Homo sapiens: one gene and its partners. The protein of the gene in region 1 interacts with the protein of each later gene in a pairwise test. Each region holds a gene or a part of one and is shown in the gene's direction. Other genes may lie near its edges.

Region 1 (3,500 bases):
CAGTAGGGACTATTTTTAACATTCTTTAGTTTCTTTTTCACCTGATTTCAACCTTCAAGAAAAGTGAAAATCACCAGTTTCCTGGGAAACCATTAACCCTTTCTAGATAGCCATTGTGGTAAAATCCAGTAGGGCCTCATTCTGAAATCCTCGAGTACATGCTTATTATTTGAAATTAAAGTTTTATGTAGAGAAATGGATAACTCCTAGGCTGACTGTGAGAATATATTTAATCAAGAATTAGTGGGGGATCTGTTATGTGTAGGGCTTTGCTTTAATGCCAAACCAAGTAAGGAAGAAATAAATTAGAATAAAGCATTTCTTAGATTGTTTCACATTTATGTTTAAAAATCTTACTTTTCAAAAATAGTAAACATACTCTAGAGCAAAAGAATTTGTGTTATAAATAGTAGAGGAAATAGCCACATACATGTTTGTTTTGTAGGTAATTTGCACAGAGACTGTTTAATACTCCAGTCAAATGTTTCCGATAGATATAACTGTACCATATTTTACATTATTGAATTAGCCTTCTAAATAGAGTTTTAAACATTTAAAGGCATATTATATAATACTTAAGAGTCTTTGTCCTTTGGTATTGAGTGTATATAGCACTGCATGTCCTTTTGTCAATTTGGCCAAAACATTTGGAGAAGTGAAGTAGCTGAAATAATAAGCATTTGGCTTATTAGGTTCACGTTAGCCAGAAACACTTCCTGTGTCAGTATTAGGCTTTCTAATAGCAAGTTGGGATTATATTAGATTTTGGAATTAGGTTAACTAGAATTAGACCATGTATGATAAACGTACTATGTTGTAATCTGAGTTTGAACTGTTTTTCCGTAAATAGAAAGCAAATTTTTATGGTTATATCATTTAGTGCCTCATAAAAAATATACCCAGTGGTGAGTTATTTTTGATAAGTGTAAATAAACATATGTTCACCCCATACATTTTACGTATGTATATGTATGTACACACACACACATATATATATATATAAAATTGGAAAACATTCTAGAAATAAATGGAAGCACTGGAAAGCTGTGTAATATTAAGCCATCTAATGTTTGTTTATATAGATGTGGTGTATACATAATATAAAAATTTGCTTATTATTCAGTTGGCCTGTGTAAAAATCAGCTAAATGACTGCATACTTGCTTCAACTTAATTTCCCTCTGCTTTCTCACTTAAAACTTTATGATCCTGAATTATATATTTTAAACACATTATGATACCATACCTAGAATTCCTCTCCTTACAAACTTTTGTAAATTTGTCATTTTTCCCCAAAAGACCTTCTCTCTTCCCCTCTTTCAACACTCTGTCCCTCTATGTTGCCTCTGTACTTCGTACATATGTATATTAGTTTTAAAATCATATAATATTGTGATTATTTACTTATTTCTATGACCGCTATTCTGTAATTCCCTACTTTTGTTTGTATGCCTAGCACAGTGCTTGATGGCAAATGCTCTACAAATGTGGTTGAATTAATGGAGCCTCATTACCTCATTTTTTTGTTTTCTCTGAATTTATGCATTTGAGATCATTAGCTGTATTAGAAAAAAAGGCCGAAAAAGAGTATGGGAAAAGTAAATTATTACCCGTTTAAGAAGGCTTACCTTTTTTTTTAAGAAAAGACAAAAATTGGCCTCATTTTTGACATGTTTTGTTTCTGCAAGTTTGAGAAATAACTTAGATCAGGCTTAAAAACTGTCCTAAAGTGCTGTTGGGATGTTTGGATGTGCTTGGCCTCTGAGTTATGTGGTGTATCTGAAGACCCGTGTTATATCCACAAGAAGGTAGACATTTGTGTGTCTGTCTTTTTTGGCATAGGAAGCTCAAAATTTAGGAATATGTATCTCCAGCTGTTTATCAGTTTTAAGTCTTTAAATTGCTCTCCCTTTCCCCCATGGTTCCACATTAGTGCCAAGGGTGAGGAACTGACTAGGGATAAAGAAGTGAAATTGATCAGGAAAGGGTAAACAGCAGCAGATTCCGTGATTTTATACTGCAGCTGTTGGTGACTGAGAACTGCCTAAGGGGAAAGTGTAACAATTTAGCCTTTTCTCTGGTGTTGTATAACTTGAACTTGACTAGTCTTACCCAGTTTGGGGAAATGATTGGTAAAGACAAGCCTGCTTTTCTTCTCCATCTTTCAGTAGGAACAGGAACGACATTAAAAATGCCAATTTAAAAAATGCTTCACCCCATGTAAGAGTAGTAGTTTATTTCAGATAATGTACAAAATGATCTCTAAAGTGAGTAATAATTTATTTGCAATTCTGCCATTAAATAACAGCTGCTAAAATTTTGGTCTACATGGAAACCTTTCTTATGATGTTGGTGATGAAACATATTCATTTATTAGATTTTTACTGTATGCCAAGCACTGTTATAAATGCTTTATGAAAGCATTATGTAGTTTATATATATACATGTGTTTCTTCTCAGTGGAATGGAATTGCACAGTGGGTACAATTGTAGCTTAATGTGAATATTTTCTTAAGTCGTTAAATATTCTAGAATATAATTTTTAGTGGCTACATTATGTTCAGTGTATGATATACATTAGTTGTAATCAGTCTCCTATTGTTGGATATTTTAGTTATTTTTAAACAATGTTGCATACCATCCTGAGTTCTGTCTCCATCCAGATCTCTTACTTTTCCCTTGAGATAGTCTAAGAATGGAGTTAAAAGAGAGGAAAATATTTAATTTTATTCTTTCTGTTAAATTGCCCTCTAGAAAAGAAGTATTTAGTATATGAGAGTGCTTAAACTTTGAAATGTCTGTACAGTTGTCTGAATTTTTCTTTGCCAATTTTGAAGGTAGAAAATGAAGTCTTATTTTTTAAATGCTTTATGGTAAAATAAAATTGATTTAAAAACTTATTAGGTTGTTTTGCGGTAACTAGAATGTTTTTAAATGCTATATTATAAATAGAATTTAAGTGCTCATGTAAAAGCCATTTGTACATCATTTATTTAACTCTTACCATCTTCTGTGCAGTATGGTATAGTCTAAAGAACACTGGACTTGAAATTGGGAGATGGATTTCTTTTGTAGCTATTTTTAATTTATTCTCTAATCCTGGGCTCTGTAGGCCTCAGTTTGCTGATTTATAAATTAAAGAATTTGGACTAAGCATCATATGTGCCCTTCCTTTGTTGATGGTGTATGATTTAGACTTTGTTAATTTTATTATATTGTTATTTTTGACATACTTAAACAAAAGACTTAAGAGTAGAAGTGGTAGGAAGATTAGGTAAAAGCATGCATTTTGAACAATTAAGATACAAAATTTGGAAACAATTGGTATATTAATAGTCTTTTAAGACTTACTTTGGGCTTAATAGCCATGTATCTTTGATGACACAAAATTTTGTACTACTCAATTTTGTTTTTTATGTATTTATTTATTTTAAAGAGGCAGGGTCTTGCAGTGTTGTCCAGGCTGGAGGGCAGTACAGTGGTATGATCATAGCTCACTGC
Region 2 (3,500 bases), on another chromosome or scaffold:
TACATTTTTCAGTTTCTGTCATGCCAGTTATTCTTTGGCACTTTCTCATGAGTGTTTAGAAGGAGAGAATCTGTCGTGGCCACAGGCTGTGTCATTGTACATATGTTTAAATATCACATCAGGGTATTTATTTCCAAATGCATATTCTTTTAAAAAGACATAAATCCATTATTAAAACAGTGTAAAAATCAGAAATTACAACTGCTGTGAATTACATAATATTTTTCTATATTTGATAATACCAGGAAAATGTCAAGAAAGTTGTTAGGAAATTTTTGAAAGTTTCCATCCCTTTGAAAATATGTTGTCTAAAATTATAACTTGCTATTTATTTTTTCAGACATCTCTTTATAATCATTAATTTATATTAATAACATGGAATGTGTAGCTCTCTAGAAGGCAATAAAATTTGCACAGCATATATCTTGCCTACTGTCAACTAGTCAAGACCTCTACCTGGTGTAAAGATGTAAACGTATATCATAAGACATGCATAATGCATTCTGTCTGTACCCATATGAAAAGTGAAACCATCCTTCAGGAGCGTCTTGTTCGGTAATGTCTAACCCAGACTTTGGTCACCATGCTTCAGTAGTTACTACTCTTTAATTCTTTCTCAGCCATCCATCCCTTCCTAGATATAATTTGATCTGAAAAATATGAATCTAGTTCAATTCTTGAGGAAACTCATGCCTAGGAAATTAATTTACTTAAGATTACACGGGCCATGTATGGTGGCTCACGGCTCACGCCTGTAATCCCAGCACTTTGGGAGGCCGAGGCGGGTGGATCACTTGAGGTCAGAAGTTCGAGACCAGCGTGGCCAACATGTTGAAACCCTGTTTCTACTAAAAATACAAAAATTAGCCAAGCGTGGTGGCACGCGCCTGAAATCCCAGCTACTCAGGAGGCTGAGGCAGGAGAATCGCTTGAATCTGGGAGGCGGAGGTTGCAGTTAGCCCAGATTGCCCCACTGCACTCCAGCCTGAGTGACAGAGCGAGACTCTGTCTCAAAAAAAAAAAAAAAAAAAAAAAAGATTATACGACTGGGTGTAGTTTGTGCTTGTAATCCCATAAACCCAGCTACTTGGGAGACTGAGGCAAGGAGGACTGCTTGAGCCCAGGAGTTTTAAGACCAGCCTGGATGACATAGTGAGAGCCTGTTTCTTAAAAAAGAAAAAAAAAAAAAAGAAAAAAAAATGGAGTTAATAATTTTGGACTACATTCCAGATTCCTTGTTTCAGTTGAGTGCTTTTTCTATTATTCCACGGGTATTTTACACAATACTGCTCTCTTTAGTATGCAAGGCTGAATTTTGGGAAATTGCCATTTTTAACCCATAAAGCCCACAAATTCATTATAATTTAGCTTAATAGCATAAATATTGAGTTAACCTCTGGAAGCAGGCTTTGACTTTGATATTGACCTGACCACTTAACTCTCTGGAGACTTTGACAAGTGACATCAATGTCTGTCTCTGTGTTTCCTGATTTATATCCACAGATAGAAAGCCATCTCCAGATCCTAGGGCCATTTTCAAGATTCAGTGAGATAAGGTGAAGCATTTGAATGTTCTCCATAAATGTCAGCTGCTTTTATTATTACTAGCATTATTTTTTGTTTTCATTATTATTATTAACATAGACCCGTCTAAGGGCAGAAAGAAATCTGACCAAGAATGGAGTGAAAGTCGGCTGTGAAGGTTAGGACTCCCTGAAAACAAAAAAGAAAAGTGGTAACATCACTCTGTATCCAAGGGCATGGATAAGGATGATTCAGAATTTTTTTATAACATTGATGTTAATATACATAGAGAAATACACACACACACACACGTATATATGTCCATGGACATCAAAATGAGGTATAGGTTAGGAAGTTACCCTGGAAGTTAGAATTGAGATAATTACTTTGATTAGCAAAGGTTTATGTTAGAAATATGAGTGGTTGAAGGCAGCGCCTTTCACCTTGATGCCTGTTGTGTTTAGCACTGGATAGAAAATTGCTATTTTTACTGATGACTACTTTAATGCTTGGTTCATTCATATGAAATAATCTTTCTTTTCTCCTTTAATAATAATGATCTCTCCTGATTTCAAGTTGAAAATGTATTAATTTAAGATAACTTATGAAGCAATGACATATGGAAGAGGAGATGGGAAATTGTTTCTCAATGGGAAAGTGTTTATAAATGGGATAGGTATACTAAAGGTATTTCCATTTAGGGAAAGAGGAAAGGAATGGTATTAATATATTTCTCTAATATTTTTCCCCCTTTGAAAGTTTGCCATGTTAGGAATCCTGGGGATGGAGTGATGAATTGTGGCATTGCTCTGCAGTTCACGCTGCTGAGAGCTGCCCCAACACACACACACACACACACACACACACACACACACAAAGGTTGCACACACACAGGTTTGATTATGCTCATGAGACTTCTTTTATTATTGAAAATATCTTAAAGTTTTATCTCACCAAGGAGGCCTTTTCTCTTTCCCTCTCTTTCTAGAAGGCCAATGATGAGGCCAATCAGAGTGATACAAGTGTCTCCTTGTCAGAACCCAAGAGCAAAAGCAGCCTTCACTTACTGTCCCATGAAACAAAAATTGGATCTTTTCTAAGCAACAGAACTTTAGATGGCAAAGACAAAGCTGGCCTTTGTCCAGATGAAGATGATATGGAAGGAGATTCTTTCTTTGATGATCCCATTCCTAAGCCAGAGAAAACTTACGGTTTGTGAGTAAATGGTTTTTGAGCTATGAGACTAGGGGTTTAAAAATAAGATAAATGTTTTCATTTTATAGTTAAAAAATAATGAACTATGGAAGGTTTATAATTATTGGATCCATAAATCTGACTATGCGTTGTTAATGCCTTTCATGTTGTAAAACAATCCCAGATTTTAGAAAAACCTAGACATGATTTATTCCAACAAGTAAGTGTAGATTGAGTGTCAGCCACTTGCCAGGGCTGTTCCAGGGTGGGGTGCAGCAATGATAGAAGAGGGAAGACTCCTGCCCTCAGGAAGCTCATGCTCTGGTGACAGAGTCAGGCAATGAGGGTTATGCTGCAGTGTGTGGGGTGATGAGAGCAGAGCAGTGATGGGAGCCCGAGTGTGTGGTCAGGGCAGGTGCATGTCAGCTGTCCAAATTGGAGGGGGCCTCACTTGGAGGTGCCCAGTGAGCAAAGAGCTAGAGGAGGTAAGGGAGTTGCCGTGGGTTGATGGAGCTTTGGGGAGAGGAAACAGACAGCAGGGAGGCGAGTTGGGGGTAGCAGAGAGAGCAAGATGGGGATCGGATGAGGTGGACTCAGAGATGAGGAGCTGGACGGCTTTTCTTTGAGACTGGAAGCCCTGAGGATCTTGATCTGGCGTACATTACAGAAGGATCCTGAGGTTGCTGGGGAAGGTTGGTCTTAGAGTTTCCAGTTAGGAGGCCGTTAATGATGGAAAAGGATTTGCCAGTAAGTGCTAGAGAAAAGTAATATACAGAGTGGCA
Region 3 (3,500 bases), on another chromosome or scaffold:
TGACAACTGCTGGGTGGGAGGGACAGGCTTGGGGGCGGGGCTGGGAGGGCTCCTTCCCTTCCTGACCCAGGGATGGTCTTTACTTCTCCCTGGCACCTGTAGACCTGTCTTTCTTGTGTTTCAGATTTGCCATACGGATGGGAACAAGAAACTGATGAGAACGGACAAGTGTTTTTTGTTGAGTAAGTGTCTGCAAAGAAACCACTCTCAGCTGTTTTGCTTTTTAATAGGAATTTTTAATTATAAAAGTAATACATAGTAACTGTAGAAAAATACAAAGTATAACAGTGTGTATCTGTAATCTTAGCAGAAGTGACTACTTTTAACATCGCTGGAACTTTTAACATCGCTAGATTTATTCTTCTATTTTCCCCGCACACGCATCCTTAAAAAAAAAAAGTAGGGAGGCCAGGCATGGTGGCTCATGCCTGTAATCCCAGCACTTTGGGAGGTCGAAGTGGGTGGATCCTGAGGTCAAGAGATCGAGACCATTCTGGCCAACATGGTGAAACTCCGTCTCTACTAAAAATATAAAAATGAGCTGGGTGTGGTGGCACGTGCCTGTGGTCCCTGCTACTCGGGAGGGTAAGGCGGGAGAATCACTTGAACCCAGGAGGCGGAAGTTGCAGTGAGCTGAGATCGCGCCACTGCACTCCAGCCTGGGTGACAGAATGAGACTCCTTCTCAAAAAAAAAAAAAAAAAAAAAAGAGGGAATGCACTGTGTGGACTGTTTAGTAACCTGCTTTTTCCATGTAATATATTATGAGCATTTTCTTGTATCCATATCTATTTTTCAAAAAGATGCTATTTAGCAGCTCTAGAGTTATTATTTTGTACAGATATACTATAATTTATCAAATTGCCTATTGGACATTAATGCTAAATTCCTGTTATAGAGAACCTATAATTATAAATAATGTATTGAGCATCCTTATCTGTAAGACTTTTTCACCTCTCTGATTCTGTCTTTAGGATAAATTCCGGTATCACGCAGCAATAGTAACCACCTGTCCAACATATAGCATGAGCCAGGCCTGATTCTAATCATCTTGTATCTGTAGCATTAGGTCATTGGATCCCCACAGTGCCCTGAGAGGTAGTATTGTTATTATCCCTAGCTTACTGCCAGTGACACAGACTTGAGGGGGTAAGTGACTTGTTAAGGATCCCACAGCAAAGAAGTAGCACAGCCAGGCTTTGAGCCCAGCACCTGCTCCAGGGACTGTACTCTTGACCACCGTAGTTAAGAGGAGAATTAATGTTTCACAACTGTCAACATTTAAATTAGAAGCTTGAATAGTCTTTGACAGGATTAGGATTGGTTGGTTAATAGAAGTTGATTTGAGCAGGAATTTTTTTTTTTTTTAAAGTTATGAATGTAACATAAACGTTTCAGTATTTGATTCAAGTACACCAACATTTAGGGGTCGGGCCAGCCCTCCTCTGAGTGTGAGTCCACTTGCATGGATCCAGTGTGGTCTTCCTTCCCCTAAGCATGCCTGTAACATAACATCTACAATTTCTACTTTCATTTTATGTGGGCGAAAGAGTACCTAGGTGCCGAGGCAAGAGACTGAAGGCACAAACTGTTTCAGTATAATAAAGAAAGTAGTTAGAATAAGAATAGTCATAATACAGGTTAGATATGGAGATGATCATGGACAATTATCAATCATTACTATAAACACTATTAATCATTAGCTTTTAATATTACTCTTTGTGGCATTACTAACATAACCTAGGAATAACTGGCATGTATAGGCTCAGGTGCTAAAGGGACATTGTGAGAAGTGACCTAGAAGGCAAGAGGTGAGCCTTCTGTCACACCCGCATAAGGGCTGCTTGAGGGCTCCTTGGTCAAGCGGTAACGCCAGTGTCTGGGAAGACACCCGTTACTTAGCAGACCGCGAAAGGGAGTCTCCTTTCCTTGGAGGAGTCAGGGAACACTCTGCTCCACCAGCTTCTTGTGGAAGGCTGGGTATTATCCAGGCCTGCCCACAGTCATCCGGAGGCCTAAACCCCTCCCTGTGGTGCTGTGTTTCAATGGTCACGTACGTTGTCCGCTTTCATGCTCCTCCCGTACTCCTGGTTCCTCTTTGAAGTACGTAGTAGATAGTGGTAGAAGAAATGGTGAAAGTTTTAAAGTCTTTGATCTTTCTTTTAAGGGCAGAAAAGAAAATGCTGACGTATGCTGCCTTCTCTCTCTGCTTCGGCTACCTAAAAGGGAAGGGCCCTCTATCCTGTAATCACGTGACTTGCTTCACCTTGTCAATCACTTAGAAGATTCACCCTCCTTACCCTGCCCCCTTGTCTTGTATGCGATAAATATCAGCGTGCCCAGCCGTTCGGGGCCACTACCGGTCTCCACATCTTGGTGGTAGTGGCCCCCACCCTGGGCCCAGCTGTTTTCTCCTTATCTCTTTGTCTTGTGTCTTTATTTATTACAATCCCTCGTCTCTGCACACGGGGAGAACACCCGCTAAGCCCAGTAGGGCTGGACCCTACAACTTTAAGGTTGAGCAAACACAGTATTTTCAAAGAATCTGATTGCTACATCATTTGGGAGTTTTATGGTATTTTTCTAGCATTTTCACTGTAGTTGATTGAACCAAAACTTTTTTTTTAGCTGCTTGTCTTTGAGGCTCTCCAAAGCATTCGACCACATTTTCATAGATACCACTGACACTATTTTTCACCTCCCATGTTATCAGTTTGTGTAATAGTAGCTTGCTGGTAATGTAGTTACAGTAACAAGTTCAAATGACATGTGTGTTTTTTGAGCAAACCTGGTGAACTTTTGGTGCAAAACTGATATTGAGAGCAAATAGGCCAAAGCTTGCTTGAGAGAAGTCTCCCAGGCCACCATAGGCAGCCCCAGGAAGACGGGGCTGTCTAGCAGTTGGATAGGTGGGAGTGCCTATTATTTGTTAAAAGGCTTTTTGCCTAACTTGTGAAAGTTTTTTTTCCTCAACTAATTAAGGGTATCAACGCATTGGTTGTATGTTGAAAATGTTGAAAATGTTTTTTTTTTTTTTCCAAGTTTTCTTTCTTTTTTTTTTTTTATACTGGGTCTTGCTCTTCTTATCCAGGGCTGAGGTGCAGTGACACAGTCACAGCTCGCTGCAGCCTCAACCTCCTGGACTCAAGTGATCCTCCTGCCTCAGCCTTCTGAGGAGCTGGGACTACAGGCTCATGCTGCCATGCCCAGCTAATTTTTAAAGACTTTTTTTTTGTAGAGACTGAGGCTCAGTATGTTGCCCAGGCTGGTCTTGAACTTCTGGCCTTCAGCGATCCTCCTGCCTTGACTTCCCAAAGCATTCATATTACAGGCATGAGCGACCACACCTGACTGAATTTCTTAAATTTTTTATGTAGTCAAATCAATTTTCTCCTGTGCAGTCTTTGCCTTTGCATTCACGCTTGGAAAGTTACTCCCTGAAATGGGTATTAATCAACCAAGAGCAGCAGTTCTCAGGCATGGTTCCTGGACCAGCAGCAT
Region 4 (3,500 bases), on another chromosome or scaffold:
GAGTGCGGCACAGACAGCTTCAGCTGTGACTTGTTGATAGTGTGTTTTGTTTGTTTTTGTTTTTGAGATGGAGTTTCACTCTTCTCGGCCAGGGTAGAGTGCAATAAGGCAATCTCAGCTCACTCCAACTTTCACCTCCTGGGTTCAAGTGATTCTCCTGCCTCAGCCTCCCGAGTAGCTGGGGTTACAGGCACGTGCCCCCACACCCAGCTCATTTTTTAATTTATGGTAGAGACGGGGTTTCACCATGTTGGCCAGGCTGGTCTCAAACTTCCTGACCTCAGGTGATCCACCCGCCTCAGCCTTCCAAAGTGCTGGGATTACAACTGTGAGCTACCACGCCCGGCCTATTTGCAGTTTTTCTAATATTCTGAATAAATAAATCAGACCTAACATAGCTGTGGGGTAATGTTGAGATCCGACTGGACTCAATATTATTCCCCATACTTTTCTGTGTGTTTGAAATATTTCTTTTTTAAACGACATGTTGTTCTTCCTAAGCACCGTTAATGAATCAAAGGACTGCTAAAAAAATGCTACAAGTGAAAAAAAAAAAAGAAAGAAAGAAAGAAAGTGTTAAAACTGTAGATCCGCCAAAAACTTCCAGAGTTTGTTTCATTAACAGCATGTAGGTATTGGATAGGTATCTTAGGAGTGAGGGTGATGAACACATTATGTAATAAAGATCGCTGTTTCTCTGTATTGGTTTATCAAAACCAAATAGTCTTCTCATTCCCAAAGAACCCTGATTCTCCGTAATGAGCTTGGAAGAGAGTTTGAAGGAGTGATCCCTTATCCAACACACAGAGAGCTTTCCCACTTGTCAGAGAGCAGAGATAACATAGGGTGAAAAAAAGATAGGTTCTTGGGTAGAGAGCTTTGTACATTTCAGGAATATAAAGGGGACATATGTATTTACTTGCTCTTCTACTCTGACAACATAATTATAAGACAAGGTCAGAATGTCCAAACCGTCTCCAATAGACCTATTACTCGCCAACTAAACAGGCCAGATTCTACAATCTCCCGCAATCACTATAAGAGACCTGAAAAGCCAGTGCTTGAGTATCTGCCAAGTTTTGACAGTAAAGGAGTGTCTTTATACTGAAAATATTTCAGAGCCACTGGACCAAATCATCCATGGTTCATCACACATTTAACAGCTTAATTCACATACCATAAGATTCACCCATTTGAAGTGTACAATGATTTTCAGTTGTTGCACATCTTGAGTGGATACAGTTCAGATTCCTAACCAATCAATTTAATTATTTGGGAAAAAGTAAAAGATATGTAATGGAATAAGATGAGACTGTGATGGGGTGTAGTCCCCATGTGATAAACCATGAGATGGAAAATTCTGAATTGATGCCACAGATAAATGCACCAACCATGACTAAACATAATTCAGAAGCAAATCTGAAATAACTCCTCAACAATGAGTGGACTCATAACCCTCTGCTGCAGAATACCCTGATGCGACAGAAGTCTCTCTAGAGTTTGGAAACCTTTACCAACAAAGAAAAATTCTGATGTATTCTCTTTCAGTTGAACGTCCTCAGATGACTTTCGGCAGGCTCCAGGGAATCTCCCCGAAGGTGAGTGTCTCTCAGATCTAAAGGACCAGAGAACCTTTGTCCCTCCACGGATGCGAACACTGGTAAGAGTGGGAGAATATCAAAAATGCCCTCACTGCCTTCTTCTCCCCATGTCTATCACAACACCTGATGTCGCACCGACGGCTTGATAGTACCAACAGTTGCGATTGTTAATACTTCTTTTGTTTTCATAGTGATGCCAGATACTATTTCAAGCAGTTCACATGGATTAATTTATTTAATCCTTAAGAAGACATTGTTTCTATTATCTCCAAATAATAATGAGTCACACACTTCAGTTTTCATCCATATGAAAGCCATGTGACTTGACACAAATCTTCTAAGTTCTCTGAGCTCCAGATTCCTGGTCCATGAAATGGAAGTAAAGAATTATAGTTCATGTTTTAGATCATAGTTATCAGCAACATAATAATAAAATGAGGCTATCGTGGTACAGAGATGTTAAAGAATTTTCCTGGGGCGCAGTGGCAGTGGTAGTCTAATCCAGAGCTCCAAGCCATTTAAAGCTCATTCACATTTGCATTTGTCTATGAAGTTCAGATGTTGCTCACTAGGGCTTCACCCCATAGGGCCTGCTGGTGCTTCCAATGAGACACCCACTCTCTCAACAGGAAGGACCATCTGGTCTCTGCTGTGTTGCTGGGGCCACTTGCATGGCTTAGGAATCACTTTGATTGTTGGCCCCTCCCTACTGTGAGCTCCTTGAGTGCCTTGTCTGCACCTGGGGCATCTGGGAAGGCCCAGTCCCAGCCCAGGGGATCCCTCGGAGGCCCCTGAATGAGTGATCCCACAAGTGCAGATTCAACTCTGGTTTGGAGGGTAAAGGGATCTGGGAGTTGGGTTGCCAGTGTGGAGACTGAATTCAAAGAAGGATTGTGAAAGGTATTAATTGTTATTATTACGACATTTAAACAGTGTTTACAAGCTCAGAGAGGACTTTACTGTAGGCTATTTGACATGTATGGTTCACTATTTCATAAGGGAGGAAGCTGAATGAAAAGTAGCTTAAGAGCCGGGCGCGGTGGCTCACGACTGTAATCCCAGCACTTTGGGAGGCTGAGGCGGGCAGATCACGAGGTCAAGAGATCGAGACCATCCTGCCCAACATGGTGAAACCGTGTCTCTACTAAAAATACAAAACTTAGCGGGGCGTGGTAGTGCCTGCCTGTAGTCCCAGATACTCTGGAGGCTAAGGAAGGAGAATCGCTTAAACGCGGGAGTCGGATGTTGCCTTGAGCCGATATCATGCCACGGCACCCCAGTCTGGCGACACAGTGAGACTCCGTCTCAAAAAAAAAAAAAAAAAAAAAAAAAAAGAAAGAAAGAAAGAAAAAAAAAAGTAGCTTAAGATTGTTGGTCAGTGACACATCCCAATGCAACCAGAATTGGTATGGGTACCACCTCACTGAATTCCACATTGAATGTCGGTGCCCCAGTAGGGTAGTATGTCATATCTGGTACTGCTTTGTTTGCTGCCTAGATTAATTTCGGCAAACCATTTCTTTCCCTCTCCCTTCCCTGTATTCATCTCCCCACACCATCTTTCCCAGCAGTGTTTTGTCGCCTCCCTATGTTTTTACATTTACTCTCCCAGCAGCTGTCTAGAAGCTTATATGGGATCCCTTGTATTTTACAGAACCTCTTCCCTTTGTAGACCTTGTGAATTCTTAGAATGCTACTCTTCTCCAAATCATCTGTATATCACACTCTCAATTACATGGAGATTTTTGCTGTTTGCAAGAATGTCAGTCCTAAAAGAGTGGGAAGATAAGCATTCTATCCCTGGAAACCATATTCACTTAGGCCATTCCTTTCCCTTCTAACCTCCCCTCCCAGGTTTCTCCTAATTTAGGCCTGTGTAACTCTCCCAGTGTTGTTGAG

What was found. The genes of interacting proteins can lie anywhere in the genome.
Region 2: the proteins of SPRED1 (region 1) and CEP43 interact in binary tests that used the Homo sapiens proteins (3 or more experiments, as listed by UniProt).
Region 3: the proteins of SPRED1 (region 1) and WWOX interact in binary tests that used the Homo sapiens proteins (3 or more experiments, as listed by UniProt).
Region 4: the proteins of SPRED1 (region 1) and SSX2 interact in binary tests that used the Homo sapiens proteins (3 or more experiments, as listed by UniProt).

The regions. Positions count from the first base shown.
Region 1 is NC_000015.10:38,255,836-38,259,335, forward strand, and holds part of SPRED1 (sprouty-related, EVH1 domain-containing protein 1), read left to right. Parts: intron 1-3,500. UniProt on the Homo sapiens protein: Tyrosine kinase substrate that inhibits growth-factor-mediated activation of MAP kinase. Negatively regulates hematopoiesis of bone marrow.
Region 2 is NC_000006.12:167,019,897-167,023,396, forward strand, and holds part of CEP43 (centrosomal protein 43), read left to right. Parts: intron 1-2,512; coding exon 2,513-2,739; intron 2,740-3,500. UniProt on the Homo sapiens protein: Required for anchoring microtubules to the centrosomes. Required for ciliation.
Region 3 is NC_000016.10:78,109,654-78,113,153, forward strand, and holds part of WWOX (WW domain-containing oxidoreductase), read left to right. Parts: intron 1-124; coding exon 125-182; intron 183-3,500. UniProt on the Homo sapiens protein: Putative oxidoreductase. Acts as a tumor suppressor and plays a role in apoptosis. Required for normal bone development. May function synergistically with p53/TP53 to control genotoxic stress-induced cell death.
Region 4 is NC_000023.11:52,700,679-52,704,178, reverse strand, and holds part of SSX2 (protein SSX2), read left to right. Parts: intron 1-1,548; coding exon 1,549-1,598; intron 1,599-3,500.